2 separate regions of the Homo sapiens genome follow, and region 1 is linked to region 2. The links come from fine-mapping of genetic effects on gene expression. A gene starts in region 2. The other region holds a variant in brackets. All regions are shown on one strand. Distances are from middle to middle.

Region 1 (16,591 bases), 42 kb before region 2:
ATCATGAATACAGACTACTCTGCCATGGGATGATTTTCTAAATCAGATGGGTTTCTGAAGTTGGCAGAATGTTACCTAATCTTTAGTGAAACCACCTAAAGAGCTATGTTTGAGATGTTCCCTATTTTCAAGAACTTTGATATTCTTGTCATCTTATATCCAAAAGAAGTATAAAAGGAAATATAATGAATTGGTTCTTCAAAGAGACATTTTTAGATTTTATATAATAGAATAGGTAGAATAAAAAAGCATTTAAGGAGAAGTCCTGATTATATAACACTAAGTTGCTTTGCCAGCTATCTCCCTGAAATGCATTTTTCTAACACATTTGTTCCAAAACACTTTCCACACAATAAGTATTCATTTCAACCAATGTGGCGATGACTCTGTGGTTTATGTATGATGTAAGCATTCCAGAGTCCTTTCCAAAGTACTAATTTGACTCATAAAAACATTTTATTTTAAGTAGTTTTCAAAGAATAAAGGTTTGATTCTTGATTTTTGCTTCTAACAACTAGCATGTTTAAAATGTGTTCAAAACGCAACAATCAAATATTTTAACCTCTGAGGTTTTTTCTTCTTGCAAATTTCTTACTTAATTCAGATCACAAATAATAACATAATAAAGAAGTGTGTTAAAATATTGACCAAGGCAAAAGAGCCATCTTTTGTTAGACGAGGATAAAGAATTAAGCAATACTTTTTAAAGCTAATAAATAGTGCTTTTTATCTCTCAATTTTAAAAAGTATCCAGTTAAATGGCTTTGTTATTTAAATTAAGAAAAATGATGGCACACAAAAAGGGAAAAATGTCTTTAGTCGACAAAATGTTGGCTCATTTTGTTCATCAAGTTATTCCTTTCATGGCAATGAACAAAGGGAAATTTGGATTATTGAAGTGAGGGTTTTAAACAAACACACAGTGGAAAATGGGAGGATAAGGAATTTCTGACTCTCAATATTTGCTAACTTAAAATTTTAAATATAGGAAAACACTTCAACAATACTGACAGAGTTACCATCAACCGTGTATAATTTCTGCAAAATCATTCACCATCAAAATGCAATGCTTCTCCTAATGCTAGTATTCATTTCCAGAATGCAATTTGATTCAGAATATAATAATGCAAGAAAATAAATGATGAAGAAAGATACACACACACACACACACAAACACGCATACACACACACACACTCACACACACATACTCCTAAGGAGTGCAGTTCCTTGAAACAAGATTCCTGACAGTCAATACATTTCACATTATCCAATATCTCATAAATCTTCATCCAACTAATTCCTTCAATACTGAGAAGTAAAAAAATATATAGTAAAAAATGTTTGCACATTGTTGCAAATCATACTAAACATTTGCCAAAAAAAATCTGTAGGTCGGGAACTGCTGTTAATATCAAGATAATCACTACTAATGAGGTGATTATTCAGTGCCATTATAATGAGAACTGCTGTAATTTGGATATTATGCTTACCATTTCTCAAAACTATCAAAAGGTTTTCTGTTATGTATTACTCTAAAGGCAGAAAAGATCTTTTCTTTTTTCTCAAAAAAGAGTCACAAAGAATTATGTAAAAAAAATTTTTTAAAGGAATAAATTAGAATGTATTTTTAAACTTGGAATCTGTAACAATTATACCTAACAGTAGTAATTCGGACACTATGCTCTGAGTTCTGATTCATGTAATAATTTATTCTGACATATAATAGTTTTTCCTAAATTCACCCACCTTAAGACCTTTTTTCAAAGCACTTGAGTGAAAAAATATATATTCCCTGGAATGTTATGCTTCTTGGTGGCTTTCATAACTACTACTCTCTTTTCAAGGGAAACACGGGGAAAAATTGCATCTGCAAATTTGGTGTGGCAGATGAGACACTTTTGTGCCCAGGAAATGCCTCACTAAGATTATGCTAGTTTGGGGAATGGCCAAGTTTCTGATGGGGTGATGAGCATGGTGTACTTCCCCTAGGCGGGTACTCTGGTGATGTGACATTTCGCCATCAGCCCCACTTCAGAGCATGACCCGGAATGGAGAAAACTAGGGCTGTCCAGGCTTACAGTAAGCAGCATTCCTGTCTTTCAGCAGCAAGCTTTCTTCCTTCACTCTAACGCCTTTTTCTATTGCCCTTTTAAAGGGCAACACAGGAGGCAAAATGTTGCCATCATTGTTAGCTGGTAGCTATGAGAAAAGTTTTTTTTTAGTTTTTTTTTTTCTTTGAGAAGGGGTTTTTTTGTTTTTTTTTTTTGTTTTTTTTTTTTTGCTCTTTTGATTGGAGTTATTTAGGTCACGTCTAAATTGGATAATGGAAGCCAACATTTTGGTGATAAACTGTGGAGATACATATATATATATACATACACACATATAATTTTAAAAAAATTTTTTTACACAACCATCCTTAGAAAAACAGTTTAGTGAAGGCAAAAATTTTATCTCTACCTTTTTAGGGTTTTCAGCTGGGCCTGAGAATTAATTGACATAAGATAGATAACAGGAGAAAAGTATACACATTTACTGAGTATAAATTTTAGTTTTACATGACATGGAAGCCATCATGTGGAAATAAAGACCCAAAGAAGGAGTTAGAGTTGAATGCTTCTATATTGAATTGGACACTGAGTAGTAAATTACGAAAATGTGACAAGATGAAGGACTTGGGCTAGGGTAGTTAATGGTGAAAAGGGAACTAGGAAGATAAGGGTTAGTTTAACAAGGTTTGTTTGTACAGATTTTTCTCAACTCTGAGTCCCCATCTCTGCTAATGAGAATGTTATTTTCTTTCTAGAATGATGAGAATATCTTCTATATGGGAGTTCTGTCTCCTGCTTTTAGGGAAAAAAAAGGGGAGGTCAGAGTGACCTTCTTGTACTTGCTGTTTTTTAGGTGCCTTTAGCTCAAAATAATCCTCACGCCAAAGTGGCTTATTTTGGAGTGGCATATTATTACACACTTAAAAAAATCAATTTCATTTTATTTCCCTATATTTCAAAATCAAACAGATACTAGATGCACATATATATGAATACTGGTAAAATTATAAATGCAAGTAATATATTCAACTTAGACTATCACTTTAAATTGGCCTTTGGTTTAAGAAATAATTCAGATACATATAGTTCATTTAGTTTTTTAGCCATGTCCTTTTAAATTTGAAGTACTTTATGCTTTCTTCAAAATTAATAAATCCTATGAAAAAAGACAGAAGACCTTAAAGTCTCAGATAAATTTTAACTTAGAAATTTATGTATATGTGTCCAATTTCTTACATGATGAAATGAAATAAATGTGGAAGATATAATCATTAATGGCACATGTATGGCAGAACATAGAATCATTACAGTAAGAAATAATTTGCTATCTAAACTCTAAAACATATGTAGTCAGAGTTGAAATTTGCAATCCAGACATCACAAATAGTCTACAATTATCATTTTTAGCATCCTTGTATTTTTAGCTTTGGGTAAACTATAAACACATTTCAACTTCATGTTGCACTGCATGACAGTGGGCACATAAAGACATGATAACTTGCTGAACTCCTTCCTCAGAGAATATACTCCTATTCATGGCCCCTTTTTCTAGGTACCGTCCCATCCAACTATTCCTGGGCATCTCATACAGCCTTATTTCTGTCACTTACTCCACCACCCAGATCTCAGCTTTTATTCCAGTGTTGGACTCTGACTGAAGGGCATCCAGTCTATTGGCTGAGTGACACCAATCAGATTATCTCACAAGAATTTAAATGAGAGACAGAAATTGTGATTTGTCCGCAGAGCAGCCAATATCCTAAACCAAAGGAACAATTCCATCAACTTCCTTGCTGCAATCCTGGCTTCCAGCACATTTGTAGTAAGTTTCTGCTAGTTAATTTACTTTAACATGCTTTTAGTTAGAGATTTTTTAAAAAAATGAACATTGCATGTATCAAAGCTTATATTATACAAATTGCATGCAATAGTAGTCCTGAGTTTGCTACAGGGGAAAAATGGGTAACCTAAAATGATGCATCTCACTGAATATGCTATAACATGAGGGGAAAAGTTAGATACCAGAAATATTCACCAAATTTGAAAATGTGAAGATTTAGAGACTTAAATCAAAGAGAGGTAGAATCTAATTCTTATCCATAATGATAAATTAAGCTAGTAAAGAGTAGAAAAGCTGGTAAGGATGATGTAAATTTCCTCAAAAACCTTCTAGGGGGGGAAATACAAAAGAATACATTTTTTCACTTGTAAATATGTTGTATTGAGATTGAGTTAACAATTTTTGGGATCCTGCTCTGAAGTGAGTGCTTTTAGAGGTAAAAGTTTTAAAGAGAACAAAATTAAAGCTTAAAGAAGTGTGGTGACTTTCTCATCATCTCAAAGCTAGTAAGAATAGAACTGAGATTCATTTTCTATTTCCTGACTTCAGGTCCAATATTTCAATGTTCTTTCTATTTTTCTTACAGTGATCTAGAAAGCTGTGAGGCAGTGACAGACTATGTAATTTTTTTCCTTTTTGGTAGTAAAAACCTATTATCAGCTGTCACATAGCTTTATAGAGCAGATGAAAACATTTCTTTAAATGAGCCTAATACCCTTGTTTTATACTGAGAAAAATTAGATTTACAGATGTCAATTGATCTGTCCCTGTGGACACAGTTAGACAATGGTCAAGATTACAGGCCAAGTGTCAGACTTGTAGTCCACTACCTCCCATTCATCTAATTAACACAATACTAGTTATTGATGTTGACATGGACTTTTAATTCTTTTAAGACAGTGTGGATATAGGTGTCATACATCTGATTGATCACTTACTCTAATGCATTAGGTATAATCACAGTAAATAAAACATATAGAAGATACACACTCCCTTCTTAATTATGTCACACATAAAAGAAATATTGACATTTGACAATAAAATGCAAATGAATTGACTGGCTCCTTTATTCTGTGCTTAACTAGACTTAAGATAGCTGCAACAGAGCAGGTTTTCATTGCTGCCATCTCAGACCCTATATCAGGAACAGAGTTGGGTCTGTCCTTATTCTTAGGATGCTCTCCAGATCCTAATAATTACATACATAGTCTTGTCATCTTTGTTCAGATAAAACGCCCTATGCAAATAGGAGTCTTAAATTGCTGGCCATTATATAGTTTTATTCTTCAGTTAAACCAGATTATAAATTTTCATATAGGAAGAGAGAGTTGTAGAGATGCTATAAAATCAGGTTCCTGAATTATAATTATCTGGTATTCTAATTTAAAATTTTTATTTTCTGAGATATTTAAAATGTAATGAAACATCACCAGCACCTAGTTTTTTGCCTATAAATTATTTTTTTATAATAACATCTTCTTATAATCACCTATTACTTCTGCACAAAAGATATTATACTGTTCTAGTCATTGTAATCATTTCCATGCCCCATCCATATATTTGCATTGGTAAATTTATTAAGAAGTTTGTTCTCAGAGCTCAGATCTATATAATTGTCAATAAAAGCTTGTGTAACCTAAAATTCATTTTATAATATTCACTCCATTTAATTTTTGGACCTTTAACATTTTAGATTTAAAAAATACATATCCAATTCCATTAATCAGACTTTTAAATATTTTTAAATAAGTGTTAATATTTTCAAATAAATATACAGCTCAATGAATTATCACAAAGTGTAAATAGCCATGTAACCACCATCAGGATCAAGAAATAGACCAACTCCAAAATCCCAGAATCCCCCTTTCCTCCTCGTCAAGGTGTATTGCTATCCTGATTTCCAACACCAGAGATTTATTCTTACCTCTTTTTGAGCTGTATAAATAAAATCATACAGAATATATTATTTTATGTCTGGCTTCTGCCACTCAGGATTATGTTTGTAGGGTAATGTGTTGTTTTGAGTAGCAGTAGTTTAATCTTTTTTCATTGCTGTAGCATATTTATTTTCCCATTTTACTTTGGTAGACATTTGAATTGTTTCCAGTTTTGGGCTATTAAAATTATACTGCTATGGACATCTTAATGTATTTATTTTGGTGCACATATGTTCCATTTCTGCTCGTTGTAAACCTAGGATTTCTGGGTCATTGGTAAACATGTGTTCACCATTAGTAAATAATGCCCAAAGAGTCTTCAAAAGTGATTTCACTAAAGTACAATCCTATGAGTTTACATTATTGCCAATTGATATGGTTTGGATTTGGGTCCCCACCCAAATCTCATGTTGAATTGTGAAACTTAATGTTGGAGGAGGGAACTAGTGGGAGATGACTGGATTATGGGGACAGATTTTTCCCTCACTGTTCTCATGATAGTGAGTTCTCACAAGATCTAGTTGTTTAAAAGTGTGTAGCACCTCCTCCTTCACTCTCTTTCTTCTGGCTGGGGCCATGTAAGATGTGCCAGCTTCACTTTCTGCCATGATTGTAAGTTTCCTGAGGCCTCCCCAGCCATGCTTTCTGTACAGCCCGTGGAACCGTGAGCCAATTAAACCTCTTTTCTTCATAAATTACCCAGTTTCAGGCATTTCTTTATAACAGTGTGAGAATGGACTAATAAGCCAATGCTTAAGATTGTCAGTCTAATTTTGTTTAATTTTAATCATTCTTTAGGTGTGTTGTTTTGATTTTTCTGATTACCAATGAGGTTAATCTACCTTTTTTATCTATTTATTTGCCACTAGGATATCGTCTTATGAAGTACCTGTTCATTTCCCCGGCCTATTTTTTTTATTGGCCTGTCTTTTCTTATTCATTTGTAAGAAGTTCATTACAGATTCTGGATACCTGTTTCCTGTCCGTTGTAAATGTTGTAAATATTGCCTCCACTTTGTCTTTTCACTTCCTAGTGGTGTCTTTTGATTAACAGAAGGTTTAAATTTTTTGTGGTCCAATTTAACCATCTTTCCATGGTGTTGCTTTAGAGAAATCTTTGCCGATCTCAAATTCAAATTCGTGAAATTTCTTCCTAAGCTTTCCTCTAAAAGATTATTGCATTAAAATTCACATTTAGATTACAAACTAATGTTTGTGTATGCTGTGATTCACTTTGTTTCATATGAATATCCAATTAACCCAGTACCATTTACTGAAAATGGTACCATAACCCAGTACCATTTTCTTCATTGCCCTGAAGCACTACCATCATTAAAAATCAAGTGACTATGTGTGTGTTGGTCTGTTTTTTAGACTTGTACCTTTGGTTTACTTGGCTAACCTTGCACCAATACCACATTGTAGGTTTATGATCTTCACATTAAATGTAAATCCTCCAAATTATTATCCTTCTTCCAGGTAATCTTGGCCATTCTGGGACCTTTTCATTTCCATGTAAATTTTATAACAGTTGATGATCAATTTGCACAAACATACACACACACTCAAAAAGCATTCAAATTAAGATTTGGAATGAATTGTATCAATTCGAACAATTTAATTGATTTGGAATCAATTTAATTGTTTTGCTATAAAACAATTTAAGAAGAATTAGCTTTTTTACAATATAGTCGTTGAAACTATGAGCATGGTATATCACTCCTCTTATGATTGTCCTCTTGAAGTTGGTAGTTTGCTGATCATAGGCATTTCATATTTCATGATAGGTGTTTGATTTCTTATGCCACTCTGAATAATGTTGTACTCTTATTTTCTAAATATTTGTTGCTGGAAATTTAAATTCATTTAATTTTTTAAATTTTTTGAACAAACAAAATTTATGTATTAA[T/C]TTCTAGTATTTATGGGTAGGATTTATATGAAATATTTATCTACACAATCCTGTCATCCTTCTACATTTGCTTTTTTCTAATCTACAAATACAAATAGTACATTCATGTTTGGGATGACCTCTTAAAGTACAACCTAGCTCATTTTGAAAAAAAATCTTATTAATATTGATTCTTTGACTTGTTCCAGTGCTTCCTCAGATCATTTAAACTTATTTTTTTATTACCATAGGAGTGCAATGTATTGCAATGTAAATACTCTGGACTTTGAAATCAATAAGATAACAATTTTGACTCCAGTTCCTAAATGTACTACTCATTTTGCTTAAAAATGTTACTAAAACTCTGAGTATTTCTTCACGTATAACTGGGCACATGGTGAGCAACCTCTAAGATAACCCCCAGTGATCCCCACCTTCTGCTATTCATGACTTTGTGTAATACCCTTCTCTTGAGTGCAGGCTGGAATTAGTAACTCACTTCTAACTAACAGCATATGCAGAAATGATTGTTACTTTCAAGGTTATGTTAAAAAGAGACTGTAGCTTCCATCTTGATGCCCTGTGTTGCTGCCCATTCACTCATTCTGAGGAAAGCAGCCACTCTCTTATGAACTGCCCTATGGAGAAATTCATGTGGCTGTGAACTGAAGGAGGCTACCAGCCACCAGCCAGTGAGGAATTGAGACCTTAGTCCAAAAGCCTATGGAGGACTGAGTCCTGCCAACAGTCACACAAACGAACTTGAAATTGAATCTCCTCCAGTCAAGCCTTCAGATGAGAACACTGCCCTGTCTGCCATCTCGATTACAGTCTTGTTAAAGACTTTATGGCAGAGGCACCCAGGTAAGCCACCCATAGATGCCTAACACACAGAAACCAGGAAATAATAAATGTTTTGTTAAGATACTAAATGTCGGGACGATTTATTCCACAGTAATAAATTACTAATAATATACAGAGTATATCCACCACAGACTATATGACCCTCAACAAGCATTCAGCATTCAATATTTCTAGTTAGTTTATAAATGAACAATTTTTATTGATCTTGTACAATATATACAATTCAATTAAAAATGCTTCAAGTGACCAGGCATGGTGGCTCATGCCTGTAACCCCAGCACTTTGCAAGGTCAAGGCAGGAGGATTGCTAGAATCCAAGGGTTAAAGACTAGCCTGAGCAATATAGTGAGATCCTTTATCTCTCTATATATTTTTTAATGCTTAAGATAATTCGATAAGTAATATCTCTGACCTCCAGAAGTGCTGAAGTGATCCTCTTAACATCTATACTTTTAAATACTAGAGGAACTAGAAATACCTGAGATAGAAGGAATCTTATAAATTTTAAAAGAATGAACTGCTCTATCAGCTTTGGGTGACCACTCCAATCTCACTACTGGATTCATTTTGTTGTGGTGTATAACACAAGAAAATTTCCCCCAAAATTAGCAGTAAATGGACTGTTCTTTAAATTTCATTGCAAATTTTTCCTATCACAAATCAACTGTAGAATGCAAATCAATCATGACTTCAGTATAAAACCTGATTAGTAGTAACTATAAAGATAGAAACTCATAGTTTCTTCAGGCTGTCATTCTTTTTATACAACTTAATGTCATAGTTATTTTCCCATCAAACCATTGACTATTACATTTCAATTTAATTCCATTGGTATGACATACAGTTTGCAGTTTCTTTCCATCATATCTTCCCCCAAAGAATTGTGGTCTCATCATGCCTTTATATAGATTTTTTCCTTCCTTAAGCAATGTTTCTAAAATAGAATGGCTTTTTAACATTATTTATAAGTACCCACTTTTCTAAACTGTTTGAAGATATTTTTCATTTCTAATTAAATTTCTAGAATAACACTGACAAAAGATAGTATTTAATGTATGTAATTCATTCAAGAATTCTTTGGATGTTAGCAGGCATACAGTCCCTAAGAGCATAATATAAAGGTGATGAAAAAAACTGGGAAGGAAAAATAAATAAGCAAATGAGCCAAACTGCATACTACTACAAATATTTATTGCAATGATTAAGATGCTTATATTCTGAATCATAAAACATAGCCATTAAGCTTTATGGAAATAATCCTGCATAAAGCTCTGTATATCTTCTTACATTTTCATAATTGATGGAAAAATATCATCTAAAATGAAAACTAACAATAAGTTCATAAATCATTCAGTGTTTCCTTTGCCATGCTTTGGGCTAATCATTCATAGAAAGCAACAGATATGTAATGCCTGGTATGTCCAGGGTAACAAATACAAAATATATCTCTTACTTTTATGCCTTCATTTTCATACTTTTGAATTAGATGGCTCCAATGCTAGCATAAATTTTTAAAAATATATCCATCATGCTTCAGACTCTTTCTTAATTATGGCCTGTGGGCCAGTCATCAACAACATTTTTCTTTCCTAGAACATAAGAGGTCTGGATTTTGCATGTCTTTCCTAGAACAGGGAAGCCTGTCTGCCAGCCAATCAGAACCTGCCAGTGGACTCAGTAAGCAGGCCTATTATTTGAATGCTTAGCTTTTCATTACACTAGCTATAAAACAAGAAACATCAAGACAAATAAGAACTTGGATTGGCTGCTAGATTTACTACCCAGCTGCTAAAGAAACCATCAGGATTCACTATATTTCACCATGTTAGCAAGAAACATCAGTCACATTAACAGCCATCTTTAAAAGCAGAGTGAAGCATAACTTACCAGTTCTATCAACGAGCCCTTTAGCTGAACAACTGCATCTGTCTGAGTTCATTTAAAAAAAAAAATTGTCAGTAATTAAATACATCTTGCAAATTTTTTTTTAACAGTTCCAAAAGCAAGGAATTGCTTCAGTTGCCCTTAGTTTATTTCTGGCCATTGTAAACATCTGGATAAGCATAATGTACTCTTAGGAGCTATTGGTATGTTAATCCTCCAGTGGAATTTAAGCAGGGTTTTTTGTGTATTTTTATAGATATATAATATTTGCACATTTTTATGGTGTCTGTGGGTATTTTGTTACATGCATGTAATATAATATGTACTTTGATTATATCGTCACACTTAATTTTATTTTATTTTCCCACTGCCTAAGTCTATTTTGTGCTGCTGTAACAAAATAAAACAGGATGCCACTTTGGGAGGCCGAGGTGGGCGGATCACGGGGTCAGGAGATCAAGACCATCCTGGCTAATACGGTGAAACCCCGTCTCTACTAAAAATACAAAAAATTAGCTGGGCATGGTGGCAGGCGCCTGTAGTCCCAGCTACTGGGGAGGCTGAGGCAAGAGAATGGCGTGAACCTGGGAGGCGGAGCTTGCAGTGAGCCAAGACTGCGCCACTGCACTCCAGCCTGGGCGACAGAGCGAGACTCTGTCTCAAAACAAAACAAAACAAAAACAGAATGGGAGATTTATAATGAATAAAAATGTATTGGCTAACAGTTCTGGAGGCTGGAAAGTCCAATATTAAGGTGCTGGCATCTCGTGAGGGCCTTCTTGCTGTATTATCAAATGGCATAAAGTGAAAGGGCAAAGAGAGGGCAAGAAAGGGCCAAATCAGTCTTTTCATAATGGTATTAATCTCACCCATGAGGGTAGAGCCCTATAGCCTAATCACCTATTAATATCTTAATGATCTTAATATCTTAGTAACCCCAACTGTTAATATAGTTACAATGGCAATTAAGTTTTATCATGAGTTTTGGAGGGGACAAACATTCAAACCATAACACCCACTGTTTTTTTTTATTTTGTTTTGTAAGATGCTAGGTTTGTGTTACCATAGCAGCTACTCTGGAGGTACAGACAATTCTTTCTTTATATTTATTAAATGACTTAAATTCTTGCATTGAGAAACTCTATACAAGCATGCCATGTTTTCATTTGCAAATATTACATGTATGTTACAAATACTAGCTTATATGTTTTAAAATCTTTACCTTGGTTAATGAGGAGAACTTTTAAAAATCCCATTTGAATTAGTGCCTTTCACAGGGAGTGACTTTTGAGTTTACCTTAAAGAATACGTAAGATTCCTCCAGCCATGAAAGGAATATAAAGGCACTGTTGCGTTGGAAAATAACCTAACCAAAGGCCTGGGAGAGCAAAAGTGCCTTGCACAGTCAGGAAGATCTATTTTACATCTAAATATATGCAAATAGAGATAAATCGGAGATAAATCTTAAAAAGTAAGACTGTATGTCATGCAATGGATTTCAAACTTAATTCGTTAGAATTTGAAGAATAGTAGATTTTTTAAACAAGGTAGTAGCATGTTTCAGACAAATCACTGTCTCCTGATAGAGAGAAAAGAGAGATAAATAATGGCAATAGAAAAGGCCATTTAAATTGTTATTCAAACAACAGTGGTGATGGTATTTTGGCCCAAAACATTTCTGAATTTATTTCATCTAATTCTCTGAAACTCTCTCCTCCTAACCAGCATTTTCCTTTTCTTTTAAGCTTGTTTTTGTTCTGACTTTCCATGTAGCTCATTATTTTCAAATTTAAAATAATTAGGACCACAAATAGACTTTTCATCTCCATGAACTTTTTTATATACCCGCCTATGCTAAGTTTATATAATCTGGAAATACTAATATAAATCATTAAGCTTTAGTTCAGTACCTTTTGACAGCTGATTAAACTTTTCTTTTCCTGAATGATAAAGTAATATTCTATTTATACCCAATTCCTGATGCTATACACTTGTATTTAGAAGAAATATGGTTATATTATTTGAATTTTGCCAAAGTAGAGTTTATTTCTTGGACACAGTATAGTTTATCTAATTTGCAAAAGGAATCCTAGGGAAAGATTAGACTCTAACTAAAGCCTATTAAGAAGTCAAACCTCGACAGCTGGCACATCTGTTCCTGTCTTCCCTTCAACTTCTACAGTCTTCCTTCTTTTAAAAAACTCTGTTTTCTTTATTTCATTGATATAGAAGAGATGTAAATATTTTGAGGGTGCATGTGATAATTTTGTATATTTATTTAATTTGTGAAGATTAGATCAGTGTAATTGATCACCTTAAGTCACCTTAAATACTTGTATTTTCTTGATGCTAGAAACATTTAAATTGTTCTCTTCTAGCTAGTTTGAAATATACAATAGATTATTGTAGAACACAGTCACCCTACTAATCTATCAAAAGCTAGATTTATGTCTTCTATTAAACTATATATTTGTATTCATTAGTCAACCTCTCCTCATCCCCTTCTCCCCTCCCCTTTCTGGCTTCTGGTAATCACCAATTTACTCTCTATCTTCATGAGATCCACTTTTTTAGCTCCCATATATAAATGAAAACATGCAATATATTTGTCTTTCTGTGCTTCACTTACTTAACATAATTATCTCCAGTTTCATTCATGTTGCTGCAAATGACAGGATTTCTTTCCTTTTTAATAGCTGAGTAATATTCCATTGTGTATATATGCCACATTTTTTATTCATCCATTGATGGACACTTAAAGATTGATTTCATATTTTGGCTATTGTAAATAGTGCTTCAATAAATGTGGGAGTGTAGATATCTCTTCAATATATTGATATCCCATCTTTTGGATATATACCCAGAAGTGAAATTGCTGAATCAAATGGTAGTTCTATTTTTTGTTTTTCTGAGGAAACTTTACAGTGTTTTTCATAGTGGCTGTACTAATTTACATTCCCAAAAACAGTGTACATGTGTTCCTTTTTCTCTGCATCCTAGCCAGCATTCATTATTCCCTATATCTTTGATAAAAGGTATTTTAACTGTGGTGAGATGATATCTTATTTTTGGTTTTGAGTTGCATTTCTCTGATGATCAGAGATGTTGAGCACTTTTTCACATACCTCTTGGCCATTTGTATGGCTTCTCTTGAGAAATGTCTATTCAGAAGTTTTGCCTATTGTTTAATTGGATTATTTGGGTTTTTTTCCACTATTGAGTTGTTTGAGCTCCTTATATATTTTGGTTATTAATCTTTTTTCAGATGGGTAGTTTGCAAATATTTTCTTGCATTCTGTGGGTTTTTTACTGTGTTGATGTGTGTGTGATAAGATTTTTAGTTTGATGTAATCCCATCTGCCCATTTTTTGCTTTGGTTGCCTGTGCTTTTGAGGTCTTACACAAAAAACTTTGCCTAGTACAATATCCTGGAGGATTTCCATGATTTCTTCTAGTAGTTTCATAGTTTGATAGGTCTTAGATTTAAGTCTTCAATGCATATTGATTTGATTTTTTGTATGTGGTGAGACATAGGGGTCTAGTTTCATTCTTCTGCATATGATTATCCAGTTTTCCAGCATCATTTATTAAAGAGACTGTCCTTTCCCTATTGTATGTTCTTGGCATCTTTGTAAAAAATGAGTCGGCTGTAAATACATAAATGTATATCTGGGTTCTCCATTATGTTCCATTGGTCTACGTTTCTGTTTTTATGACTGTAAACCATGTTGTTTTGATTACTATAGCTTTGTAGTATATATATATTTTTAATTTTTTTAGTATTTATTGATCATTCTTGGGTGTTTCTCGGAGAGGGGGATTTGGCAGGGTCATAGGACAATAGTGGAGAGAAGGTCCGCAGATAAACATGTGAACAAAGGTCTCTGGTTTTCCTAGGCAGAGGACCCTGCGGCCTTCCGCAGTGTTTGTGTCCCTGGGTACTTGAGATTAGGGAGTGGTGATGACTCTTAACGAGCATGCTGCCTTCAAGCATCTGTTTAACAAAGCACATCTTGCACCGCCCTTAATCCATTTAACCCTGAGTGGACACAGCACATGTTTCAGAGAGCACAGGGTTGGGGGTAAGGTCACAGATCAACAGGATCCCAAGGCAGAAGAATTTTTCTTAGTACAGAACAAAATGGAGTCTCCTATGTCTACTTCTTTCTACACAGACACAGTAACAATTTGATCTCTCTTTCTTTTCCCCACGTTTCCCCCTTTTCTATTCGACAAAACCGCCATCGTCATCATGGCCTGTTCTCAATGAGCTGTTGGGTACACCTCCCAGACGGGGTGGTGCTGGGCAGAGGGGCCCCTCACTTCCCAGATGTGGTGGCCGGGCAGAGGCGCTCCTCAGTTCCCAGATGGGGTCGCCGCCGGGCAGAGGCGCTCCTCACCTCCCAGACGGGGTGGCGGCCGGGTAGAGACGCTCCTCACCTCCCAGACGGGGGTGGCCGGGCAGAGGCGCCCCTCACATCCCAGACGGGGCGGCCAGGCAGAGGCGCTCCCCACATCCCAGATGATGGGCGGCCAGGCAAAGAGGCTCCTCACTTCCTAGACGGGATGACGGCCAGGAAGAGGCGCTCCTCACTTCCCAGACTGGGCTGCCGGGCAGAGGGGCTCCTCACATCCCAGATGATGGGCAGCCAGGCAGAGACGCTCCTCACTTCCCAGATGGGGTGGCGGCTGGGCAGAGGCTGCAATCTCAGCACTTTGGGAGGCCAAGGCAGGTGGCTGGGAGGTGGAGGTTGTAGCCAGCCGAGATCACGCCACTGCACTCCAGCCTGGGCAACATTGAGCACTGAGTGAGCGAGACTCCGTCTGCAATCCCGGGACATCGGGAGGCCGAGGCGGGCAGATCACTCAAGGTCAGGAGCTGGAGACCAGCCCGGCCAACACGGCGAAACCCCGTGTCCACCAAAAAATACAAAAACCAGTCCGGCGTGGCAGCGCGCGCCTGCAATCCCAGGCACTCGGCAGGCTGAGGCAGGAGAATCAGGCAGGCAGGTTGCAGTGAGCTGAGATGGCAGCAGTACAGTCCAGCCTCGGCAACAGAGGGAGACCATGGAAAGCGGGAGACGGAGACGAGGGAGAGGGGGAGAGAGTGGAAAGCGGGAGACGGAGACGAGGGAGAGTGAGAGGGAGAGGGAGCGGGAGAGGGAGCGGGAGAGGGAGAGGGAGAGCGCTTTGTAGTATATTTTTAAGTCAGGTAGTGTGATGCCTCTAGTTTTGTCATTTATTGCTAAGGAATGCTTTGGCTACTTGGCATCTTTTGTGATTCCATAAAAATGTAAGACTGTTTTTCTATTTCTGTGAAAAATGTCAGTGGTATTTTAATAGGAATTGCACTGAATCTGCAAATTGCTTTGAATTATATTGCCAACTTAACAATATTAATTCTTCCAATCCATGAGCATGGAATATCTTTCCTTTTTTTGTATCCTCTTCAACTTAACTCATCAGTATTTTATATATTTCTTGTGTAGGTGTTTCACTTCTTGGTTAAATTGATTCCTAAGTATTTTGTAGCTATTGTAAATGGAATTATTTATTGGTTTTCACTGTTTCTTGGTGGAATCTTTAGGCTTTTTAAAGTACAATTTTATGTTATCTACGAACAAGGCTAATTGGACTTTTTTTTTTTCCATTTTGGACGCCCTTCATTTTATTTGCCTAATTGCTCTGGTCAGGATTTTCAGTATTATGTTGAATAAAGGTGATGAAAGTGGGCATACTTGTCTTGTTATAGATCTTAGAGGAAAGGCTTTCAATTGTTCCGCATTCAGTCTGATGTTAGCTGTGGATTTGCCATGTTTGGACTTTATTAATTTAAGGTATGTTTCCTTTCTATCCAGATTGTATGGGGTTTTTTCCTAAAGAAATGTCCAATTTTACAAAATGCTTTTGCAGCATCTATTAACATCATTATATGATTCTTTTTTTTTTTTTTTTTTTTTCCTGAGACAGAGTCTCACTCTGTTGCCCAGGCTGGAGTGCAGTTGTGCAATCTCAGTTCACTGCAACCTCCACCTCCCGGGTTTAAACAATTCTCCTGCCTCAGCCTCCTGAGTAGCTGGGACTACAGGCGCCCGCCACCACGCCTGGCTAATTTTTGTATTTTTA
Region 2 (16,591 bases):
ACTGAAGAACATTAGAGAACATTCCAGAACATGAACCAGGTCTGGAAGCGGCATATATCACTTTTGCTCCATTTCTTTGCCAAAAAATTAATCTCAAAACAGGAAAATCTGGTATTCTAGCTATGTATTCAGCCCAAACCTTGTTTGTGTAGTAAGATGGAACAGACCTTGGTGGTTAGGTTTAGCCACATGTGTTAAGTCATTAGGCAAACAGATTTTTAAAACTTCTTTCTGCTTTTTGAAGGAATGAATCAACAAGTCTAAGCCAACTCTAGGAAACAAAAAAGCAGGAGAATAAGAAATAACAGGGCCCTTGACTATGTAGGAAATGAATAAGTAGCACCTGAATAATAATAAATTAGCACTGGTCGAGGTGGCTCACGCCTGTAATCCCAGCACTTTGGGAGGCTCGAGGCTGGCGAATCACCTGATGTCAGGAGTTCAAGACCAGCCTGGCCAACGTGGTGAAACCCCATCTCTACTAAAAATACAAAATGTAGCCGAGGGTAGTGGTGGGCGCCTGTAATCCCAGCTACTCGGGAGGCTGAGGCAGAAGAATCGCTTGAACCTGGGACTTGGAGGTTGTAGTGAGCCAAGATCGTGCCATTGCACTCCAGGAGAGAGTGAGACTCCATCTCAATAATAATAATAATAATAAATTGGCTGGACATCTCATTACGTAAATGAGACAGAGTACTATAATTCTGTAGGTTTGGTGATAATAGATTAAAAATATATTCTAAAGTCTATTTTGATTATAGTTTGTATTAGCTACCCGCTACATAGCATGTAGTGAATCCTTGGTATTGGCCCCTACATGATGAAAAAATAATTTTCGACTTTTGACCAAGGTAATTTAAAGGCTAAGCCATTGGCTTTTAGGAAAAGTTAACTTTTAAACACCAAGATTGTTGAGATAAATGCTACCCTCCTCTAAAGCTACATGAATCAAGAGAAGAGTACTGTTAAAGGAATTGACAAAGTGATAAACTGAACGTAATGAAGAGTAATGAAATAATCCAATGTAAATGAATATATGATTTTTTTTAAAGGTCTTTCAGGCCAGGCACAGTAGCTCACGCCTGTAATCCGTGCACTTTGGGAGGCCAAAGATTGCCTGAGCTCAGGAGTTTGAGACCGGCCTGGGCAACATGGTGAAAGCCTGTCTCTACTGAAATACAAAAAGTTGGACATAGTGGTGCATGCCTGTAGTTCCAGCTACTCAGGAGACTGAGGCACGAGAATTGCTTGAATCCAGGAGGTGGAGGTTGCAGTGAGCTGAGATCGCACCACTGCACTCCAGCGCCTAGGAAGCAGAGTGAGACCCCGTCTCCAAAAAAAAAAAAAAAAAAAAAGGTCTTTCAAACAAGTGGGAAAGGATAAAGATGGACAGATGGACTATTCAGTTAATGCATTGGCAAAACTAGCTATCCATTTGAGGGGAAAAGAAAATGAAAGTAGATACCTGCCTGCCTCAAACCATTCAAAAATTTTCAGACAGGTTAAAATACTAATCATAGTAAGTATAACAATATTGGAGGATCATGTAAGGCTTTTTAAACCTTGATAGATTTTGGTCTTTATTTCAAGATCACTGGAGGCATACCTGAAACATTTTAGCAAAGGAATGATGGGATCAAATTTATTTTCAAAAGATGTTTCTCTCAGCTGTGTGTAGGAGAGGGAAGAAAGCACAATTATTAATGCAGTTAAGAGGTTGTTTCCGCAAACTGGTTAGAGAAGACAATAGTTTGATCTAGAATGCTGGTAATGAGAAATGCAAGATAATTCTAGAAATGTTTAGGAGTTAGGGTATGTGTGGGTACAAGGAATGAGTATGAAACTAAGCAGTGAGTAGTTTGAAATGCCTGGTAGGGTGTACTAAAGACTTTTTGAACTTTTTTCCTAAAGATATATGGGGAGCTAATAATGATATCTATACTGAGAAGAGACATGATAGATTTGTTTAGTATGAATTCCTCTGAATCCAAGTGAGAAACGATGGTGGCCTAAACTAAGGCATTTGCAGTAGGAATGTTATGATGTATATGGACTTGTGATTGATTGTGGGATGACCCTGAAATTTCACTGAGATATGGAGGAGGTGCAGATGTAGAAGGAAGACATATTAATTTTAGACATGTTGAGTCAGAGGTGCAATGTCCAGGAGGAAGTTTCCTGTAGGGAGCGGGCAATATGAGTCTGAAGCTCAGAAAAAGACCTTTGCTACAGACAGAGATTGCAGGGTCATTAGCACTTTAGTATCCAGCTGATTCTGTTGGTGCTTCCACTCTCCGTTCTCTGGAATCCCAGTTCTGTGCCCATGCCCTAGTTCTGTGTGCATACCCCACTTCTGCAGTCTTTTCTTGTAATAGCCTCTACCTGTGACTTTTTCCTCAGTGGCATACTCTGGAGCCACTGGAGCTGTTCAACCCGCCAGGAAGGACGGCCAGACCCTGACCCCAAGGGAGTTTATGTCCGTTTGTTTCCCTCTTCCATTGCTAGTGATCAATGAATGACTGGTGAAGAAATAGGAAAGCCCTTGCTTTGAGGGTAACAAAACTGGGTATAACATATACTCCAGAGCTCCCTGAAAATAAGGCTGATGCTGGGACTTTACTTGAAGGCACATGCTGCTTTTTGTTTTTGCATTGTTTTTGTCCCATGTTCTCCAATTCTCTACTGACAAAGAGTCTCTCCTTCACCAAATTTTAGTTAGGCTTCTCTCAATCCTCTTTCCTACCCTCGACGTTTGAATTTCCATGTCAAATGTTTGCATCAGCCCAATTTTATTAAGAATCCTGCTAAGTTTGTTTATCCAGAATCTTCCAGCCTGCCTTCAGTAAGAATCTTGTTAGGTAGGTTTAGCCAGACTATCCCCTTACCTCAGAAGTTTCCTTTTAGTAATTTTCCATTCATCTACCTTCCTCCACTCCCACTCCTTAGATATAAATTCCCACTTTTCCTTTTTTTTTTTTTTTGCATTTGAAGTTCAGCCCAATCTCTTTCCCCTACTGCAAAACCCCCTTGCAGTGGTAACTATACCTACTGTGATAGTCTGAATAAAATCTGTCTTACTATACTTCAGCAAGTATCATTGAATGAGATTTTTTTCTTTAACATTATCCTTGTCCCTGGAAATACTACCTCAATAAATCCCTTTTCCATACATTCTTGTCTTAGGGTCTACATCTGGAGAGTCAAATTTAAGACATATGATAATTAACACAGTGATAGCTATGAAGGCAGCCTAGGAAAGCTGTGTAAAATGAGAAAAAAAGGCAACCTAAGATGGAATCCTAGGTTGAAAGCACTATCACTTACCACAGAGGCAGAGAAAAAAGAGACCAGGAATGATACTGAAGAAAAGAGGCAGAAATGTTGTGGAATGGGTGAGGTATTGTGAATAGAAAGTGTGGTATCAGACATGAAAACCAACAGAGAGAATTTCAGGTCAAGAGTATGAAATTATACAGAGAAGTCAAGTTACTTCAGGATTACAAAGAATCAACTAAATATTGCAACAAAGGGGCCTCATTATACCCTATTAAAGATTGGGCATTTTTAATATTTGGAAAGTCAAGACTGTTAATACCATAATATTGTTTTTTTTTTTTTTTAAAAAAAAGGTATTTTTGAGCACCTGTTGTGGCAAAAACCCTGTGCTAGTGATACAGTGGGGGGACTGAATGACAGTCCCTGCCAGGAAGGGTCTGACAGTCTAATTACAGTCCAGTGTAATAAGTGTTTGCAAAGTTGAAAGTCAATGAAAATCATTAGAGGTACACAGAAGAGTCAAAATCTGTTATTTTCTTTATTAATGACTCTATAACCTTTTATACAATTATTGTGTATTATACATCTTATTTAATGTACCTTCCTACTGCAATTCTTTTAGCAGAGTGTCAGGGAAACATGTATGTTCATGGAGGGTCAAGCATGCTGACCAATGTACTTGCAAGTAATGCAAAAGAGACATTTCTTCATTGTATGGATATCACTTGTTTTCTTATTTATTTGCACATTTATTTTTATTTTTAGGAAAAAGATTCTTTCAGCACATGATGAAACAAAGAAAATATCTTCTGTTGTTAGCTTTGCTTTTATGAATAGTTTGTTTTTTAACTGCAAATTCATCTTGCACTAATGGATGGTCTGGTAAACAGATTATCTGCTCATCAGTAGACTGTCTGGCTCTATATGGTTTAGTTATCATAGTTTGGAAAGGCAGCAACTTGCTGTTACTTTTTTCCCCTAGCCTCCAAATCTGCAGTGAAGAGTGGCTTCAACACAGCACCTGCTAAAATTTTCACAGGAATCTGCTATTTACTGATGGACTCTGCACTTTGGGGAGCTATAGAGATAACATTATCTCTTCGCTGTTTCTTATCTTATAACTTTGTAGCAGAGGAAATCAATGAATGTTAGTATCTGTTAATATCTGCCTTTGTTAATGTAAGCATTAGAAACTTGTACTTTCTGGGTGAAACTACTGAAGTCTTGGATTTTTTTAAATTCCAAGTTGCCAAAGAGGAAAGAGGGAGAATACTTAGTCATTTTATATCCACAGCCCTCTACCCTGCTCCTTGCTTGTAAATCCCCACTTGGCCTTTTAAGAGTTGAAATAGAGTCCAATCTCTCTCTCCTCCTGCAAGACCTGGTTGCAGTGGTTCTGATCACCATGGACCCCCTTGAATAAAGCCTGCCTTATTATCTTCAACAACTTTAATGACTAACTTTTTATTCACTAACTCTCCCTCTTAACTTTCTCTACCATGTTCATCAGACATGCAGTTAGTAAGGCATGTATAATGAAATGTAAATACATTTGGCACTAACATCCAGTGTTATTATGTTTATAGGTCTACATTTCTACACTTTTTAGAATTTATCTCTATTTTGTAGCTATTCCTGAAATGATGTTGAAGTAGAACAACAACAACAAAGTCTTTGATCTGACTATTTTTTTTTTTTCAGACAGAGTTTTGCTCTTGTTGCCCAGGCTGGAGTGCAGTGGCGCGAATTCGGGTCACTGCAACCTCCCTCCTTCTCCCAGGTTCAAGCGATTCTCCTGCCTCACCCTCCAAAGTGGCTGGGATTACAAGCATATGCCACCATGCCCGACTAATCTTGTATTTTTATTAGAGACGGGGTTTTGCCATGTTGGCCAGGATGGTTTCGAACCCCTGACCTCAGATGATCCACCCGCCTCGGCCTCCCAAAGTGCTGAGATTACAGGCGTGAGCCACTGCGCCCGGCTAATCTGACTACTTTTTAAGGAGGTTCAAACTTCAGAAATAACTGTAAATATTTGTTCAAATAAGAGAAATATTTAGTCTAAAATATAAATCAAAGAAAGGGTACGTACAGATTAAGCAGTGTTTGCTGTAAAAAATGTACACATTTATTGTCTAATAATACATCAGTATTAAAACTCAGTTATGTTTCCTTTATTGTACTCCACAATTATAACCATTTACAATTATTGGTAGTTTAAATAACTGAGATAAATACTGTAATTATGTAGACTTCATTACTTGAATATTTAAGAAACAATTTTCTTCCCAGATGTAAATTTTTATATTACCTTTATTGTTTTAATTTTACTTTTTCTGTTTCATTCTTAGATTCAGGGAAAAATATTAAATTATTTCATTATCACCTTGGAGCCACATTGCTAAATAGTTCAGATATTACAAATCTTTAGCCAAGACCAAATTGTGTTTTTTTTTTCAATTTATAGCCCAATTATTAATATTTAGAGACCATGTTTCTTTTATGCAGTTCTTGGTATCATCTTTTTCTATAGCACTACATTTTACACAGTTATTTCTTGCCTTTTACGGCTGGGAATCAAAACACATACGAACTTCAATTTTGTTGTAATAAACGTTAAAATTTGTGAACATTTTTAGTACTTCAGTAAAAAGCTCACTCATTGGCAGAAGCGTTCCCCAGATCAGGAAAAAAGGAATTAGGATTATCTATGACCACAAAGTAACATTAATTAATAGCAGTCTTTGGGAGCAAGCAGCAGCGCCTTTAAATCTTAGATTCTCTTGTGTCTGCAAATTATCTTTTATCTTTCAGCTGTGAAATTTTGTCTATGAAGTAATACCACGAGCAAATTAGCAATAGGATTGCAAGGTTTTTATAGTCCCGTGCTGTAGAACAATTGGCAGTAATTTGAAAAAGACCGTCCATAACGCTGTTTTTGGTCTGCGGCTAAATTTGCAATTGCATAGTTTCATTAAGGAGAACTGGAAAGAGGGCCCAGAAGTTGTTCTAGCAATCGGCAGCAGTTTATCTATTTTAAATCGTAATGCATACTTTTTTTTTCCTCCTACTGAAAACAATGGCAGATATGCTAAAGGGAAGGACACATTCTTGAACTGCTAAATGGTTTTTCCAGATAGCCATTTACGGAGTGCACTCAATTGCCACTATCTGGCTGAAAGCAAAAGCACACACGACGGCCCCTTTTCTTTTTTCCCTTTGCAAAGCGAAACAGTCTAGACGTGTTCACGTGATGTGAATGACGTCAGCCCCCGCCGGGTCGCGTGACCGACACCCAGCCTTCCTACTACCTCCCCCTGACCGCCAGAGTGGGAAATATCGCGAGAATTCGCCTTACTATCAGAACTTACTGAGGTTGCAGGGGAGTTACTCAGAAGGGAAGGGAAGGTGTGGTTGTGCGGCGGAGTTTTTGCTTTCATTCTTTTAACGTTCACAGCCAAAGCAAAGGCCTTTGGGGATTGCCAGAGTCTCAGCCACCATCCTGGAAAACAGCGGGGGAGGTGGGCCTGGAGGTGGCAAGTGTAATGTGGCTCAGGGGCCGTCATTGCCCCTTGCAGAAGGGGCTGCGGGGGAGGGAGAAAACCTGCGCCCGGTTCTGGGGAGCTGGCGACGCAGTGAACCCTGCTGAGGCTGGGTTTTGCCCCGACAGTCGCTGGTGGCTGTGGGAAGGGTTGGGACCCTTCTCTGAGAGCAGTGAACAGCCCACATCCGGCCCCTGCTGTGTCAACTCTGAGCGGCGTGGAGATGAAGTGGTTGCTCTCCCTTGCTCGGCCCACCGGGTGTCGTGGCCCGGGAACCGGCCTGGAGAAGTCCCTGCTGCCCGGCGCCCAAAACAGGGGCGTGGGCTTCCGCGACCCAGGGCGGCTGCCCCGGGCCATCCTCGAGTTGCCCTGCATCTTCCCGCTCAGTCAGCCCCAGATTGAGGCAGCCTTCTCTGTGCGGGTTTAAATGGGTAACTGTGACTTCTCGCCTCATTCACCCAAACCTCCAGTCTTCTCCCCCGCACATCCTCCTCCACCCACCTGGTTTCTCCCTAGACTGGTGTGCTCGTGTGTGCAACCAAAGGAGGGAGTGCGAGAGATCCACGAAGGGACAGGCTTGGAGTCGCTAGAGGGAGGTGTGGGACCAGCGAGGAGGGGGCTTCGCCAGGGAGGGGGTGCTGGCAGGCGGAGGGAGCGGCGGGAGGAGGCGCCGGAGGAGGAGACGGAGGCCTGGGGACGGCAGAAGAGGCTTCGCCTGAGCCGAGCGCTCTTTCTCTCGCCGCGCCGTCTTGAAGCCGCGCGGGCTCGTGAGCAGCGCGAGGCCGCCAAGGTGCCTCGCTTCGCCGGAGCCGCTGCCGCCCGCCGGAGGGAAGCCGGCCTCGGGCGCGCACGCTCGTCGGAGCCCCGGCGCGCCCCGCGCCTGAGCCTGCTGACAGCGGCCGCTGGGCTCAGGCTGTCCGCTCTGGGCTCCGCGGCCTCGGCCCCGCTGCACTCCACCTCCGCCCCCTCGGACTCCCTCCCCTCTGCTTCTACTCCTCCTGCTCCAGTGCGGATCGTTTCGCAACTGCTTGCCACTCGTCCCGTGCCTGGCTGTTTTTCCATTTCCCGGCCCCCTCTTCTTGAGTACTTTACCCCCTGCATTTGGGGACAGGGACTGGAAAAGGGGCGGGTGGAGCGTCCAGTGGAGAAGAAGGAAGCGAGGCCCGCAGGAGGAGGAGGATCGGCGGACTGTGGGGAGGAGACCCCACGCCACCCTTTCTGGTCATCTCCCCTCCCGCCCCGCCCCTGCGCACACTCCCTCGCGGGCGAGCTACTTTCGGACCAGGAAAGTAAGAGCGGCCCTGGGTGACAGCGCCGCGGGGCCAGTCCCGGGGTTAGCCGCGCGTCTGCTCGCTTCTGGTCCGTCGCGCTCCCAGCCAGGGCACAGCCCGGACCGAGGATGGCTTCGACCACAACCTGCACCAGGTTCACGGACGAGTATCAGCTTTTCGAGGAGCTTGGAAAGTAAGCACCTTTGCCCGGCATCCGCATATCCCCTTTCCAGCTGAGGGCGGGTCGCGTTGCCCCCGACCCACCGGCCTCCGTCTTGGGGCGAGGGAGTTTGGGAGAGGAATGGGAGGAGGGCCCCTGGTTTGTCAGCTCTGGGGAAGGTGCTGTCTTAATAAAGGGAGGGAGCACAGAAGGGGTAGGACCCTTACTCCAACTGTGGCTCATTTTGATGGTCCCTAGCCCACCTTCTCCCGGTCCCCCACCCTCCTGCACTGAGAGACTTAGTGAATTTACGATCTCTGCAGTTGTAGCTATCATCCTGAGAAGTGTGCGCGCGCGCCTGTGTGTAATGTGTGTTTGGAGAGGAAATTAGAACCCATGTAAAATGCAACATAGATCATGTTTTCTGTAAATAGAGATGCCTCCTGGTTAGCCGGCGTGTCGGCCGTATGACCCAGGTACTGATGAGAACTCACAGCCTCAGACGGTGCCATATTTATTGATGCCGAAAGTTCAACTTGGCATAGAGTCTATTTCGCATCCAGTAGTTGTTCTGTCCAGGAAAAGGGCCACCCAACAGAACCCAACCCCTTGCCCTATATCCAGTGTTGTTCTTTGCACCAGATTACCGCTCACCATCATTCTTCCTAGGATTTACGTGTGCATCTTTGCGTTCTCTGGGAGGATTTATTTATACAGGCAACGGAAAAGCCCTCTGGAGACTGAGAGCGCTCTTAAGCGTAGCCTAGCATTGTGTAAAACCACCTCCTTCACCCGACTGGCAGAACTACTTGGAGATGTTAGGGAAGGAGGCAGGAGACCTACTGAGGACTTATGCAAAGGGACCTAGGGGCCAAGCCGTGAATGCTGATTTTTGTAGCATGGAACCCAAACCCAATTCCTCTTTCACTAGTTTCGACTGTTACTTTTATGAAAGGAGTGCGTTTATATGTATGTTGTTGGTTTATACTGTAATTAAAGGAAAGGTAAATATTTTTAAAAGTAATAAAAATTACATATGTATATATTGTCTGGTGTTAAAACATGGAGAATATGTCGGAAGAGCAGCTTAATTCAAATCTCTCCCCTCCCCCAGTCCAAAACAAGGCATAGAGAAATCACCATACCAGGATTTGTTAAACCACACTAATGTGCTCAAGATTTATATTTTAATGAAAATAATCGTCATGTTTACTTACTTGGAACCACATTAATTTTTTGTTTCCTACCAAAATAAGTAGGCAGCAGATTTTTTTGCTGCTCCTCGTCTGCTCTGTTCTGTGCAGGGTTTTTCTCAGAGCATTTGGTGCTGTGAGTGTGAACTGTAAAATGTTTTCAAATTTCTTGTGCAAACAAGAGCGGTCATAATTGGCAGTTCCTTTCATTTTGTTGATTAATAATGTGTGCTCCCAGTTAAATAAAATTTACTTTTATTCTTCAACATTAAAGAAAGTCTGGGTTTCCAGGAAGAATTGTTCATTTACTGGATATTACTGTACTTCACTGGCAATCCACTAAAATCAATAAAAATGCTCAGATTTTATAAATTTTTAATGAAATATTATATCTGTTATATTAATGACCTGCTAATTATTGGTTTCCAGGGGGGCATTCTCAGTGGTGAGAAGATGTATGAAAATTCCTACTGGACAAGAATATGCTGCCAAAATTATCAACACCAAAAAGCTTTCTGCTAGGGGTGGGTATTTTCAACCACATATATTGGTTAATTTTGTATTTGTCATGTTGATTATAGGTTCTGTTGTATGTAAATATATCATGTAGTTATAACTGAACTTTAGACTTAGGTATCATATTATATATTAAGATTATTTTCTTCCTGAATGCTTCTTGGTCTGTACAGCTTAAAAATACATGGAAAGATATAATTATTATTTGATACATTGCTATTAAAATTCTATCTGTCCTATGAGCAATAGCATGAATAACTATATTTTAAAGCAAATAAATGTCAGGTGCATTTTGCTTATAGTTTAAGTATAAAACAACTTTTAGACCATGGAATGGAAAAATATAAGTCTCACAACTGTCATAATTCCCTTTTGCTTTTGAGAGGGAAGTAGGTCATAGCTCAGTTGAATCATACATTTCAATTGTAGTTACACTTGAACTTAATTCATCAAGGTATATTTAACAGTAATAGCTTTGGTAAGAAAATTTATGATTGCTATATTCTAGGAAGTTTAGTTTTATTTTGATGTTTCTGTGTGCAGCTCAGACCTTGGTCTTCGCATTAAGGCTTCACACAGACTCATGTAATGTATTTTACACATGTAGTTTATAGGTACAGAGATAATTCATACTCGTAAAATAGCTGTTGACATAACCAAAAAACTTGGAGGGCTCTCACTGCATTCTTTTTATTTAGTAGAACTCATGCAAAAGTACTTACGCTGAAATGTTAGGCATTCCAATTATTGTGGGCACGTGTCTGAGGTATTTCCATGGGAATTTATGGTATAAAAATGAAATGAAAATGAACAAAATACCATAGTGTACGCTCATCTCAGTGACCTGGTTTATTTTAAGTAATGAGAGAAGAAATTCCATTAGGTTTAGTTTTCCTCATTTAATATGTCTTTTCAAAAGTGCTTCTTACCAAAATCCTGGCATCATTGCTTTCGGTCTCTGCCATGATTAGTTTTTCCATATTTATTGCAAATTCTACTTTTAACATGCATTTTAGGTTTAGGTTGGTATTTTAGTTTATCCATTCACATGGGTTGTTGTTTTAATTTCCTTCATCTGATTTTGACATGATTCTGAGAAAGATCTATAAAGTAACCAGCACCATAGAATCATGGTATGAAAACTAATGAGAAGAATATTATGTTAATTATGTTCTCTTAGTCTCTACTCCACAGAAAGGTTTTAACAATGAAAAGGAATTGCTAAACTATAAGTGACATTTTAATTTAAAAAAATGAAAATGTGTAGTTAGAATCTTTCAGTGCTTCTCTTATTTTCTTCTGTGTGCTAGATACTTTTGGCTGTGGTGGGGGTATCATTTCTTTTGAAAGCATTACAATACCTATTCCAAGATTTTTGGTGGTGTTTCTTTCAAAACAAATCAGTGTAGTGCTTCACTTTTACTAACTTTCTTAATTAGAGCCATCCCTCTTCACTCATCTGAATTTGTCCTCCCTAAATCAGAATAACAAATGTACTTATCCCTGGTCACATACATTTTACTCTCTTTTCCCTTCAATCTGTGGAGAAGAAGCCTTCTTTGGCCTGATGGAATCTTTTCTCCTTGCTACTCCACCAGTGTTTCCTTACTTGCTCATATTCTGCTTCAAAGAACTACCTACATGTCCCAAAGCTTTTTACCGCTTCTGGATGTAATGATTTTCATTATTCTACTTAGAAAAAGGAACTAGGGTGAAGAGTTAGGAGACATTCTTCTTGCCCGTTTTCTGCAATTTTTTTTCCTTGTGACTTTGGGCAAGTTTCTTAACCTGTTGTAGGTTAACGTACCTAAGAGTGAGCTGGTGGTGAAGAACATTATTAACGCTGCAACCAGAAGCTCTTGAGTTTAACTTCTGCTGCCCATACCTACTGGCTGTGTGATCTTGAGCACATTAACTAGTTTCTCTGAGCCTCAGTTTCTTCATCTGTAAAATAGCAGTAATAACAGAACCCTTCCTCATAGGGTTTTGTGTGGAATGAATGAATTAACATAGCATAGAACAGCACCTGCCCCACTATATGCAGTCAATGAATATTATCTGCTATTATTATCTAATAAAATTGTCATAATGATCAAATTAGATTACTTTTATGAAAGAACTTATAAATCCAGTGGCAGCCTTGATTTAGCTGTGAGAACTACGTTTGAATCTTTGCTCTACTACTTAGGCATAAATTTCGTTTAGTCTCTTTCCTTTTCTGGATATCAGGTTCTTCATCAGTAAAATGGGAAATCATACTCATGGAGTCTCATGGGGTGTTCTGAGGATTCAGGGAATTCAATGAGAATCATTTCTTAAACTGCAAAGTATTGTGTCAATTTTACCTCTTATTATTGTTCTCCTGAAAAATTACAGAACTTTTCCTTCAAAATGGTCAACAATTTTATTTTATATTGTCACACTAATCAGAACTGGTTGTAGAATATTTGTGCCTTTGAATGAATACGTTTGTTTAACTTGTACTCATATTGAATTATAAACTCTTGAAGAAGAAAATACCATGCTTTCATTTTTTGATACAACATTCCACAGAATTGAGAGCATAGAAGGGGCTCAGTACAGAGTAACAAGAATCAAATGTGGTTGTTAAATGACTTGTAAGAGTTAAGTACTTAATTTACTCCTAACAACAAGCAAATACTGAAAATAAATCCGTGAAGTAGTATATTAAGAGGATATGTCTTAACCTATGAAGTCTTTTAATAACACTCATTTCAGAGAAGATGATACAAATCATTTTTGCAGAAAAATTTTTAAAATAATGAATACGTTCAAAGGCAAATGTAGAAAGAATTGCAAAATAGTATGCTTGTTTTTTCTAAGGTACTGATTTTTGAGAGTTGCATATGGAAGCTTTTGTGGAGCATACTTTTTTTGTGCAAATTTTTGTTTGTATTTGAAATTCCATGACTCTGTATACCCAAGCCTTTAGTCTATTTGTTTTAAAGACCAGGCAGGTCCTCCAACTCCACTAATGTTCTTTAAATGTAACATTACAGCTGAAAAAGAAAGGGCTATTGTTAATAAATCTAAGACCATGAGGGAATTGCCAAAGATTTGGCTACATTCCTGCATAAATTTGCACATCCAACTATACTATCAACCAGGCATTTTTCTGTGCCTAGATTTTAATGGATTTCCAGCAGACAGTTTCAGTTGTATTTCCTCTCAGCTGTTAGTCATACATACCATATTTGGGGAACTCTGAGTCAATTGAAGAATTTCTTACCTTTTGTGTTAGCATGTGCGTGCATAGAACATTCATTATACTGAGCATGTAGATGGGTACACTCATATATAATTTGGCTTATTTTGAAAATAAGTAGTATGGAAGCATCTCAAGCATCTTATATTTTATATGTAATTTCTATCTTCTAAAAAGTTTTTGTTAGATGGGCATTGAGGGCATGCTTAGTAAATGTTGAATAGTGATAATAGAATTTTTGCCTTATATTTTCATGAGAATTAGAAATTACGCCATTTTAATCCCAAGCACAGTTAGATTAGTACTTAACAAAAGCCAATTTTTTTCTGCTGCTTTGATATTCTGTTTATTTATACATGTTTAGAACTGTACACTGTTGTCAAATTATATAAAGTCCAAGAAGAGCTGTGACTGCAGTTCAGAATCCAGTGGACTGATGGTTCTGATGGCAGATAATTTAGAAATAGTACCTGTGATTTATTTTGCATTTCAAAGCCTCGTGGTGGTAAAATATTTTATGTGGAAGTAATGGCTTCTTGACATTCATCTCCCAGTGTATTTCTTGATCGTTAGAAACCATTTGACTATTACATAGATTCTGATGTGTCACAGTCACTGTTTTTGTAAAATATAATACATTATAGTATAGGGTTAAAAAATAAGTTATTACAACTGTATTTTACCTCTACTCCATTGCTAAAGTTAAAAGGGATTTCATTTTATATTTCTGTAAAACTTCAGGCTTAATCAGTTAAGTCATTTTGATATTCTTTGATTTTACTAGTTTTATTAATTCCTAAATTGGTGATATTAGTAGTACATGAATCAGGACTTTATAAAACTACTTGACCATGTATGCAAAATTAGGCCTCATCTATAAAATCTAAATGTTTTGTGTGTGTGTGTGTGTGTGTGTGTGTGTGTGTGTATCCCTAAGTAACCTTTTTTGATGTTGTAAAAGGGATGTTAAAAACTAATTCTTGCTACTTTTCTTTTATTTTTGGCTTCCAGGCAGTCAAGAAAGTACTGTAATTTCTCAACTTCATGGTTACTTGTCTTGAATTGGAAGTAGAACTGAGACTATGTAGATGGATTAAGTTCTGATTATACATTATTGATTTGGCAAATTGGAACAATTTGGACAAATTAAAATTTGAAGGTTTCTTGGCAAGAACAACATTTTAAGAAAAAAATTAGTAAATCATTTTTATATTTGTACATAGAATCTCCACAACTCTTCAGTTATGGACCCAGAAGTGGCATGTGTCATCCTTATTATTTTGTATCCTTTACTTACGTTTAGTTGTATTTACATTCTTCTATAGGTCTTGATATTAAACATTCATTTTCTTCTTTCATTGAATGAAAGCATTACTGCTCTTCAGAACTAGTTAGGAGACACAAATAATAAAAAAAAAAAGTATATCCACACTTCCAGGAAATAATAGAATTCTTTTCTGTATTTCATTAAATGAAGAAAATAAAGAAAGTGGTTGTCAGGTGCCATACTGTGATATTAATAACTAGTGTAAACCTCTACCTGATTGTGTGAGAACTTTGTTTAGACAATTAGATTAATACTTCTCATTTCCATTGAAATGTTGAATAAACTGAATATAAAAATTAAAATTTAGCAATATGTCACCTTTTATGGATCTTTTTAATGGTAATAATCACGAATTACTAGAAATCTTACATGTACTGGGCTTTTCTTGGGCATCTAACTTTTTTGTTAACTAGAATTTTAATTTATTTTTAAAGTCTTCCTTGGGCTTATACTGAGGTTGACTCATAGTATTTCTAGGGCTGGATTGGTATATTTTTTAACATCAGTCTTCCCCATTTATTAGGGTGTAATGTATGCAGTGTTTTAATAAATCATTGGCAATTAATGATTATATAGAGGCTGTGTTAAAGATTTTAAGTTACAATAGTATTTCTAGTAAACTACACTGCAATGCATTAAATGGAGTATTAGCAATATTTTAACTGTAAAACATATCTTTATATTTCAAATCACTTTATAGATCATTAAGCATATTCACATGTCTTTATGTGTTTATTTAATAAATATTAAATGATTTCAGTGGACAGTGTTAGGAAAAATAAAGGCTATCTACCTAAATAAACATAATAGAAGACATGAATGGCATTACAATTCAAGCATGAATAAAGTACTATGGGCTCTTAAAGGAGGACAAGATTATTTCTGCCCAGGGAGATAAAGAAAGCCTTTCATATAGTATTGATTTAAAGAAATTTTGAAAGCTATAATGTAGATGGGGCTTAAGTACCACCCCCGCCCCCACCCAACCGAAAAAAAAAGTCTAAATAAATGATTTGGGGAAGTTGCTCAAAGTAGTTTAAATATCTGATTATAACAAAATGTTATGTTATTCATATGGTAAATTTGTTGTAATTATCAGTATACAGTTATTTTTAGAATAAAATTATTTTAAATGACGTAGGCTGTTTCTTAAGTGACAAAATTCCTCTAATTCCAGTTGAGAGATTTAGCAATACTTAAGGAGAAATCATAGACCTTTTATCTGCCATAACTTCTCTTACTCTAGCATAGGGAAATTGGTAGGTTTGAAGAGGAGAGAGGGCAGCTTTTTTGTTAAGTTTGTTTGGTTTTGTTTTTAAATCTCTTAGCTATCATTGTAATTACACACAATGACACAATGACATCACTGATTTTTTTAGTTACCTGAGCCCCTTTTCTGGTGTTACAGTCTCATTTTAACTCCTTAGAACTATGTTTATTACTACCAAAATCAATAATGCCATCTTCATCATTAATAATAATTTAGAAAAATATAAATATTAATAGCCATTATTTGAAGAGCCCCTTCTATGAGACAATAAGTATATATTTACAAGATACTTTGTTTTATTTTATTTAATCCACACTGCAGCCTCCTAGAACAATATTATGTCCATTTTAAAAAAGAATACTGAGGCTCTTGTATAAGGCCTCAAAATTAGTAAGTGATAAGAGTCAGGATTTCAATCTGGTTTTCTCTGACTGTAAATTCTGACTCTTTCCACTGTCACCTCCTGTTGATTGCTATTAGAGAGGACTTATCTTAATCTGTCTGTATTTACCTGTGTGTGCTTAACTGATCTTACAAACTTCAGAGTCCTTCATACAAAGCACTATGCCTTACATTTTATCTTCCCATTGCAGTGTGGGGGATTGAGTATTTCTTTGGGAAAATACATTTAGAGTTCCAACCTGTGAGAGAAGATAGTCTTTTAAATGCTACTATAACAAGATCAAAGTGAAGTTTCAGACAGTCCCTCCATGCTGTCTTCTGGAAGGACAACAATATAGTGAAAAATGTTATTATAAAATGGTAGGAAAATGGTTAAAGAGGAGTTCAGTATTTTGGTAAACTTAATTC

The links.
Region 1: its variant is fine-mapped to the expression of CAMK2D in whole blood (TOPMed, PIP 0.99).

What each region holds. Positions count from the first base shown.
Region 1 is chr4:113,794,889-113,811,479 of GRCh38, reverse strand. No RefSeq gene overlaps it. Among named protein-coding and RNA genes, the nearest start is that of CAMK2D, 41 kb to the right of the region's middle. The variant T/C (reference allele first, on the strand shown) is at 7,739.
Region 2 is chr4:113,752,695-113,769,285 of GRCh38, reverse strand. CAMK2D (calcium/calmodulin dependent protein kinase II delta) reads left to right here and starts at 7,548. Exons shown (of 21, transcript NM_001321571.2): 1 at 7,548-8,282; 2 at 9,872-9,966. The coding sequence starts at 8,218. RefSeq lists enhancers at 6,281-6,819, 6,820-7,358 and a silencer at 7,352-7,761.